Regions from separate parts of the Homo sapiens genome. Here region 2 is linked to region 1. Evidence: fine-mapped expression QTL. A gene starts in region 1. The other region holds a variant in brackets. All regions are shown on one strand. Distances are from middle to middle.

Region 1 (4,402 bases):
CGATTCAACAGAACTGGGTGAAGCCCAGTAATTTACATTGCTAACAAGCTTCAAGGAGATGATGCTGCTGATTCAGAAGACATTTTTGGAACCAATACACCAGTGTATTAGATCAAAGTTCTTGGCCTTTAACTTATAACCAAGACAGTCTCAGAGCCCCAGTCAACTGAGTTGGGAAAGACTCCATTAAAGTGGCATGGACACTTAAAACTAGGACACTAGCCGGGAGCGGTGGCTCACGCCTGTAATCCCAGCACTTTGGGAGGCCGAGGCGGGTGGATCACAAGGTCAGGAGACAGACACCATCCTGGCTAACACAGTGAAACCCCGTCTCTACTAAAAATACAAAAAATTAGCCAGGCGTGGTGGCGGGCACCTTAGTCCCAGCTACTTGGGAGGCTGAGGCAGGAGAATGGCATGAACTAGGGAGGCGGAGCTTGCAGTGAGCCGAGATAGCGCCACAGCACTCCAGCCTGGGCGACAGAGTAAGACTCCGTCTCAAACAAAACAAAACAAAACAAAAAACAAAAAACAACTGGAAGGACACTTACAGGTGGAAAGGCAACATTCAGAACCAGAGAACAAGAATTGAGGAACAGAGAGAACTCATCAACTGTATCATAGTAGTAATTTACAATAATACAACGCTAACGCTGTGCTCAGTGCCTCATCTGCATTATTTTTCTTTATACTCAAAAAAAGACAATACAGTGAGGCAGGTATTGTATTACTACCTACATGTTTCCAGATGATGAAGCTGACACTAGAGACTTTAGGTAACTTGCTCCAAGTGACAGACCTAATAATAGCTGGATAAAACAGAAATCTTTGGTCTACTAGTCCATCACCCAGGACCAACACAAGTGGCTTTCCTCCACCTACTGATAACGCCTGTAACAATGCTTCTCCTCTCCTGGTCAAAACCACACTTTTAATGTCAATTTTAAATCTGCCCTTCCATAGTAGGATGATAATTTATGTTAACTCCTGAATTCACAAGCAATCCTAAAACAAGGTAAGTCTAAATACAGATAAGAGGTAGGTTAACTGATCTGCTGAGAACCAAGTTTGCTTGCTTATCTGCTATTTCGAGTCTCTGCACATCTAAAAATGCAAAGGAAACTCTTACCTAATTCTTGCATCTAGAATAGCCTTTCTCCAAATCCTGCCTTCTCCACTTACCTCAGAAGAATTGTTAGGATTAAATGGAAATAGGTACCGTGGTTTTTGCAGTTAAACTCAGTGAAATTAACTATTATATTTCCGTTATATAATGCTGTGTTGTAGGACCCAGAGCTCGTTAGAGAGGTGGAGCCTGGAGACCCAAGTTTGGCAGTTATTACCTCACTGGAGATAGTTCAAGTTATGGAAGGATCAAGAATGACAGATGAAGCGGGCACATGAGAAGCGAAGTGTCTTCAAGACTAAACACTAGACACTATCAGTATTTACAGGGCAAATAAATGAAAAAGAAGACGCTAATGAAATTTAAAACAAATAGTCAAAGGGATATAATGCCGGCAAGAGGCATAAGAGTGCAAGTAATTCAACTAACTTTTAATCAACTAGATCTCATTAATCCCACTCCCCTGACCCTGGGACCCGGGCACTAGGAAAGGGGCTTTGGCAAGCCCCAATGGACTCCAGAGGCTCTAAGTATAAAACGCAGTGCACAAGAAACAACACAGCACCAGCGTTGGTGCAGGATTTCAGACAGCTCCAGGAACTTCACAAGGAAGGTCAGCCGGTCCGCTCAGGCAGTCAGTTCATGGCAGCCCATTCCCTCCCCACCTGCTTGGACCTAGCCGCTCTCACACCCCTCTTGCGGGCCCGAGCGTAGCGAGAAGACCCACGCACACTCCAATGCCGCTCACAGCCGTATCAGTGAGCCCGCACCCACTCCTGGGGGTCTTTTACTTCCCACCCGATCCGGCGACCCGCCACCCCCACTCCGCGTCTCTGCCTGCGGGGACTCCACGGAGTTCGATAATTACCTAGAGCTCCACCGCGCCGCCATTACACCGGACGTACGTCACTTCCTCTTCCCGAGCACCGACGGTAGGAAGAAGGCGAATAGTGAAATATTTAAAAACTTGACGCTCAATTGGCTTGACACGTTATCCCTTTAATTTATTTCAAATACCATATCATAATACCAGAGTCAAAGTAGTCGATCCAGGCACACTGTCTTGTTGCCAAAATGGCGACAAAAAAGAGAAGTTGGCATGAACTACAAAGTCCGAAATCCAGCGCCTGTGCTGACGGAAATGAGGAAAGCATAATTGTAGTTTAGCGTGAAATGGCGCGGTGTACGATGGGAATTGTAGTTCATACAGATGCGCGCCAGCGAGTTAACATCCACGCTGCTCACTGGCAGCCTAGTAGTGTTCAGGGTCTAGCCGAATTTACTTTAAAACTATTTCACTGCATTTTGGGGAAATTTTTTTTAAAAAAGCAGTCAGTTGTCACTTTCCTTGAAAAATCTTAAGAGAGAGATTTTCCTGAGACTTTATAAGAGTTTGACCAACAGTTAAGTGCCTAATAAATTCCAAGATATCCAGGCCATAAGAATGGGAGAATATTAAATCATAAATAGAGTGAAATAATGAGGAAAAACTAATTCTATAGAGACTGTGTTGCCTCTCTTTTAGGTTAAGGTACCAACTGGTATGACCTGAGAATAAAGAGATTGCCTGGCTGAGTAGGAAGTAGCAGTTTGTACAGCGTGCAGAACTAGGGCATCAAACAGTTTCTTTAAACTTCACTTTTCACTAGTAACAAAACCTAAAAGTTCAACTACTTGCTATTTTGGAAACTCTCTTCCTAAACCAAGAATATCTTTATGTTATCAAATCTTTCATAAACCAGGACTGGTTTCTCCACACACTTCTCTATTACAGTTTTAGGGTGCTGTGCTTCCACTCCTTTCTGGAGGCAGAGTGTGATGATTAAGAATAAAAACACTGCAGTTGGACTACTTATTTTGAATCTTGAGTCCTTTTATTATTTATGGATGACTGGGGCAAGTAACTTCACATTCTGTGGCCGTTTCCTGATCTGTTAAATGGAAATACCAATAGTATCCATCCAGGCAGTAGTTTTAAGAATTGAATTAGTTGATACACAAGATGCATTTAAGATAATTGCTAGTATACAATAGTGTTATCTATTTTATTTCATATTTAAGATATTTGGCCATTGTTGATGGTGCATTTTGGTGCACCAATACAGGGCACAGGAGATGGATCTGGAGATGAACATTTGTATTCATATATTTAAAAACCCACAATACTACCGGTGATGGTTAATTCTGAATGTCAACTTGATTGGATTGAAGGATGCAAAGTATTGATCCTGGGTGTATCTGTGAGGGTGTTGCCAAAGGAGATTAACAGTTGAGTCAGTGGACTGGGGAAGACAGACTCACCCTTAATCTGGTGGGAACAATCTAATCAGCTACCATCGAATATAAAGCAGGCAGAAAAATATGAAAAGGCAAGACTGGCCTAGCCTCCCAGCCTATATCTTTCTCCCATGCTGGATGCTTCCTGCCCTCAAACATTGGACTCCAAATTCTTCAGTTGTGAGACTCAGACTGGCTCTCCTTGCTCCTCAAGCTTGCAGACAGCCTATTGTGGGACCTTGTGATTGTGTAAGTTAATACTTAATAAACTCCCCTTTTTATATATATATCCTTATATATAGATATATATATTAGGATATATATATAAGGATATATATAAAAAATAGGATATATATGTAATAGGATATATATACGTGTGTGTGTGCGTGTGTGTGTATCTATCTATCTATCTATCTATCTATCTATCTATCTATCTATATCCTATTAGTTCTGTCCCTCTAGGGAACCCTGATGAATATACTACCTCTACAACTATCAACAGAAATAGGAAAGTTAGGGTTGAGCAGAGGAGAACTAGATGGAGCTGGAAAAGAATTGGATTTGTCAGTTGGGTCCTTCAGGAAGCAGACACTGAGAAAGAGTTATGAATAATAAAGGTGAAAGGAAAATGGAGGAAATAGTAGCTCCAGAATAAAGATGAAGAGGCCTACAATGGGATGAAATGGCTAGGCCCTTGTACCAGTTTTGCTCAGTCACTGGCTAGAGCCACCCCAAGAAGAGTGTGGCCTCAACTAAAAACCCAAGGTGGACATGAAGATTCAACAGTTGAAGGCTGTCACCTAACCACACTGCTTGCAGCTAGGCTACAAGCAAGTCCTTTCTTGAAGAGGTATCTGAGCAGCATCTCTCTGTGCCTGTCACAGTCTCCATACACCCAGTCTCCATACACCTTTCAGGAACAACTTTTCCAGGGTTCTAGTGCACATTTCTTCCTAAAAAAAATTTAGAAGTGGCAAGTTAGTGAGACAAACTACACTC
Region 2 (4,402 bases), 80 kb before region 1:
AGCATAATTGAGTCTGAATTATCTAGACTGGCTTTCACTTAACTGAAAAGCTCACTACTCCATTTATCTTTCATGCAATTATTGATGTGTTTGTGTTTAATTCTATCATGTTTGTGATTTTTTTTCTATCTGTCCCATTTTCTCTTTATATCTGTTTCTATCATCTCTTGAGTGAATCAAGTCTTTTATAATATATTCTATTTTAGCTTCTCAATTGACTTTTTAGTTGCACCTCTTTGTGGAGATTACAATTCACAACTATATGGACTGAATTGTGTTCCCTCAAAATTCATATATTGAAACTCTAACCCCCAATGTGTTAGTATTTGGAGATGAGGCTTTTGAAAGGTAATTAGGCTTAAATGAGGTCATGAGGGTGGGGTCCTCGTGATATAGTTATTACCATTGTAAGAAGAGACCAGAGAACTTGCTTGCTTTCTCTCTCCACTGTATGGGGACATAGTGAGAAAGTAGCCAGGAAGAGAGCCTTCACCAGGAACAAAATTGGCTGGCACCTTGATCTTGAACTTCTCAACCCCCAGAACTATAAGAAATAAATGTCAGTTGTTTAAGCCATCCAGTCTACTATATTTTGTTATGGCAGCCTGAGTCGACTAAGACTGACTGCATCTTTATCTTTCATAGTATATCTTCGCAATTAATTTATGACTTCATCGATAGCATAAGCAGCTTACAACAAAGAACTTCTAATTACTGCCCTCCCTCACTTTGTGCTATTCTTTTCACACATTCAACTTTTATTTATGCTATGAATCCCATAATATACTGCTATTAATTTTTATTTAAACAACCAATAGTTTTTAAATGAAATTTGAATATACATATATTTCTATTTGGTAATTTTTATCTGGTACCTTTCCTCTCTGGAATATTTTTTCTTCAGTCTTAAGAAATTCTCTTAGGATTAATTTAATTGCAGGTCTGATAAAGAGGAATATCGTTCCATATTTTCTACATGTGCAAATGTCTTTATTTCACCTTCATGCTTGAAGATTCTTTTGCTGGGTATAGAATACTAGATTGTAGTTTTACTCTTTCAGCACTTAGAAGCTATTGTTCCATTGTCTTCTAGCCTTCAGTTGTTTCTAATGAGTAGTCTGTCAACATTCTTATTGTCATTAATCTGTATGCAATGTGTTTTCTACTTTCTGGCTGCTTTTAAGATGTTCATTTTATCTTGGATTCTTTTAGCAGTTTGACTATGATGTGCCTATGTGTAATTTAATTTGTATTTATTCAGCTTAGAGTTTGCTGAGTTTCTTGAATACGTGCACTGAGGATTTTCATCAGTTTAGGATTTTTGACCTCATTCTCTTTGTTCTCTTTCTATAACTCAAATTACATGTATGATTGATCATTTTATATTGTTTCACTTATCTCAGACATGTGTTCCACTTTTTCCTCTCTCATTTTTCACTTTGTATCAGTTTATATAATTCCTATTGACCTATCTTCAAGTACACAAAATCATTCTTGTGGTATGTACTCTGGGCTTGTAAGCCCACAAAATAATTCTTCATCTTTGTCATCATATTTTTTCATATCTAGGCTCTTTTAAAAATAGTTTTTACAGCTTTTCTGTTATTTCCTATCTTTTCACAAATACTATTCACCTTTTCTACTAGTACCATTAGCTAGTTTATCATGATTATTTTAAACACTTTGATAGGTTCAACATTTCGATCATCTTTGGGTCTTATTCAAGTGGCTATTTTCTTTCTTGATTATGAGTCATTTTACTTGCTTGTGTATCTCATAATTTTCATTAAATGCTAACATTGTGTATAAAGGAATAGAGATGAAAGCAAATAAAACTTTCACTTAGAAAAGGGTACCTTCTTTTCAGTCAGGCTGTTAATGAGAGAAG[T/G]TTAAACTATCTGTAATTGAGATGAGTATAGACTTTCTGATGCTCTAGATTTAGTTCAGCACAGACTTCAAAGGTTTGAGGGTAGGATTAGAATATTCCCTTTAGCACAGCTTGAGATTTGAGTAATTGGAGAGTTTGCCTAAGTTCTCTTTCCCTGACTTTAGCCTTTGGTATGCCTAGTGCACCTGTTTTTCAGGGGATTATCTGTCAGCTCTTTAATTTATCTCTCAGCTCCAGTAGGCTGCTGCTTTAAACTTGTGAGGCCTGAAATGCCTGGAAGTTTTCTCGCAGTTGTCCTGCTTTACCTTCAGGTTTCAGCAGGCCCAGAACACCTGTATCTAAGAAGAGCAGTGACATCTCTCACAAGTGTCCTACCCCTCACCCAACCATAGAAAGCTCCCCATTCTCAGGCCCATAGTGCTTTATGGAATTCCCTCCATTCTCCTGTCTTCCTTCATACTTTAGCCTGTGCTTCTGAAGGATAGATCTCTCCACTTCTCTGTCCTTCCCCAATCTTGCCAGCAATGACTCAGTGGAGGCCTTTGGAAAACATCTGAAACGAGCAAACTGTCTTTGTATATGGGCCACTTAGGGTTTCTGAATCATCATACCAGCCTTTATTTGGCTTTTAAAAATATGTTAAAAAGCTCAGCCATTTTCTTCTTATTTGCTTTTGTGGCAGCTTCCTCCTCCTCCAGCTTTTCTACAAGGATGGAGTAGCTGAGGATTTCTTCTCTCACTTTGATTTAGTTCATTAGTCTTTTCTTGCATCCTCAGCTCTTTTGCTGAATCAAACCTATGAATTTGTTATCCCCTTTCATTCTTATTAGGGTAGGAGCAATGTTTCCTTGTGACTTTCTATATTCTACACCCTAAGTGGATGCAAAGGAGCTAGTATACATATTCAAATAACATAAGACTATCTCTTAAATCTTCCTATACAAAATTAAGTTCTTCAGATAAATTTATGTTATTTCTCCTATATCCAGGCAGGATTATGATTACATTAACTTGGATTTGATCCTAGAGATTCTCAATCTTTTCTTGATAAAGTTACTTTCAATATAATAGAAGTTTTGTGTCCTATCATAGAAATTAGATCTAGTGTAATTAAACCTTATCCTAAGCAAGTCCCTCAACAATGAATCATCTCTCTCCCAATGACTCCCCACCACCTACTCTGTCACTTAGGCACCTTCCTCTAATATGCCTGTTCTTTAATCCAGCCTGCACATTGCTTAGAGAGAAACACTAAATCACAGAGCTGATCCTGTAAGTCCCTGTCTTTGAAGCCCTTCAATGACTCCCCATAGCACAGTTAACGATGCTCTTCATGATCTGGCCCTGCATTATTGTTACAACCCCTCTGCTCTAGATCATAAGGTATACAGTTTTGTTTGCATTCAACACCTATTTTGAATTCTTTTCTGTTTAGTAGTAGAAAAGTTAATCTAGTCAATTTTGGGTAAATCCAGTGAATTCATTATTTTCTTGCTCTTCATTTTCTCCCCTAGGTTGAGTGTCTCATTCCTGATTGTCATGGGCCTATCTTGAAATATTTCAGTTATCATCACTCTTCTACACTGGAAAATCCAGCAGTGTCTGAGTTTTCATTAGTCCTCTAGTCATGGGTTCCACATTATATCTGCTGCTGTGTTTTTTTCCTCCTTGTTATGAAGCCCAGCATCACAAATTCACAGGTTCTCAGTGTCATCTTCACAGAAAAGTCTTTTGGCTACTTCCGTCTCCTGGTTGAGTCTTACAAGGACTCTAAGACTTCCTACGATTCTTCTGTCTATTCATTATATTCAGAAATTTCTAACCTACTCTCTAGTGCTATGGTGATACAAAGAATTCTGTGGGGCTTGTCCTTTTCTAGGCAACCAAGAGGGGCAGCAGAATACAAGCCTCCTTAACTGTATTAGTTTGTTTTCATGCAGCTGATAAAGACATACCAAAAACTGGGAACAAAAAGAGGTTTAATTGGACTTACAGTTCCACATACTGGGGAGGCCTCAGAATCATGTTGGGAAGCAAAAGGCACTTTTTTTTTTTTTTTTTTTTTTGAGACAGAGTCTAGCTCTGTTACCAGGCAGGAGTGCAGTGGCACAATCTTGGCTCACCACAACCTCCGCCTCCCAGGTTCAAGCAATTTTCCTGCCTCAGCCACCTGAGTAGCTGGGATTACAGGCATGTGCCACCATGCTTAGCTAATTTTTGTATTTTTAGTAGAGACGATGTTTTATCATGTTGGCCAGGATGGTCTCAATCTCCTGACCTTGTGATCCACCCACTTTGGCCTCCCAAAGTGCTGGGATTATAGGCATGAGCCATGGCGCCCTGCCAAAAGGCACTTCTTACATGGTGGCAGCAAGAGAAAAATGAGGAAGAAGCAAAAGTGGAAACCCCTGATAAACTCATCAGATCTCATGAGACTTATTCACCATCATGAGAATAGCACAGAAAAGACCAGCCCCAATGATTCAATTACCTCCCCCTGGGTCTGTCCCACAA

What was found. PIP is the estimated chance that this variant, and not a neighbour inherited with it, causes the effect. A credible set is the group of variants that fine-mapping cannot tell apart.
Region 2: its variant is the best candidate, but not a certain one, in a credible set for the expression of CWC22 in whole blood (TOPMed, PIP 0.64).

What each region holds. Positions count from the first base shown.
Region 1 is chr2:180,005,076-180,009,477 of GRCh38, forward strand. It overlaps CWC22 (CWC22 spliceosome associated protein), which reads right to left and starts at 2,222. Exons shown (of 20, transcript NM_020943.3): 1 at 1,792-2,222. RefSeq lists an enhancer at 1,370-1,902.
Region 2 is chr2:179,924,804-179,929,205 of GRCh38, forward strand. No RefSeq gene overlaps it. Among named protein-coding and RNA genes, the nearest start is that of ZNF385B, 65 kb to the left of the region's middle. The variant T/G (reference allele first, on the strand shown) is at 1,889.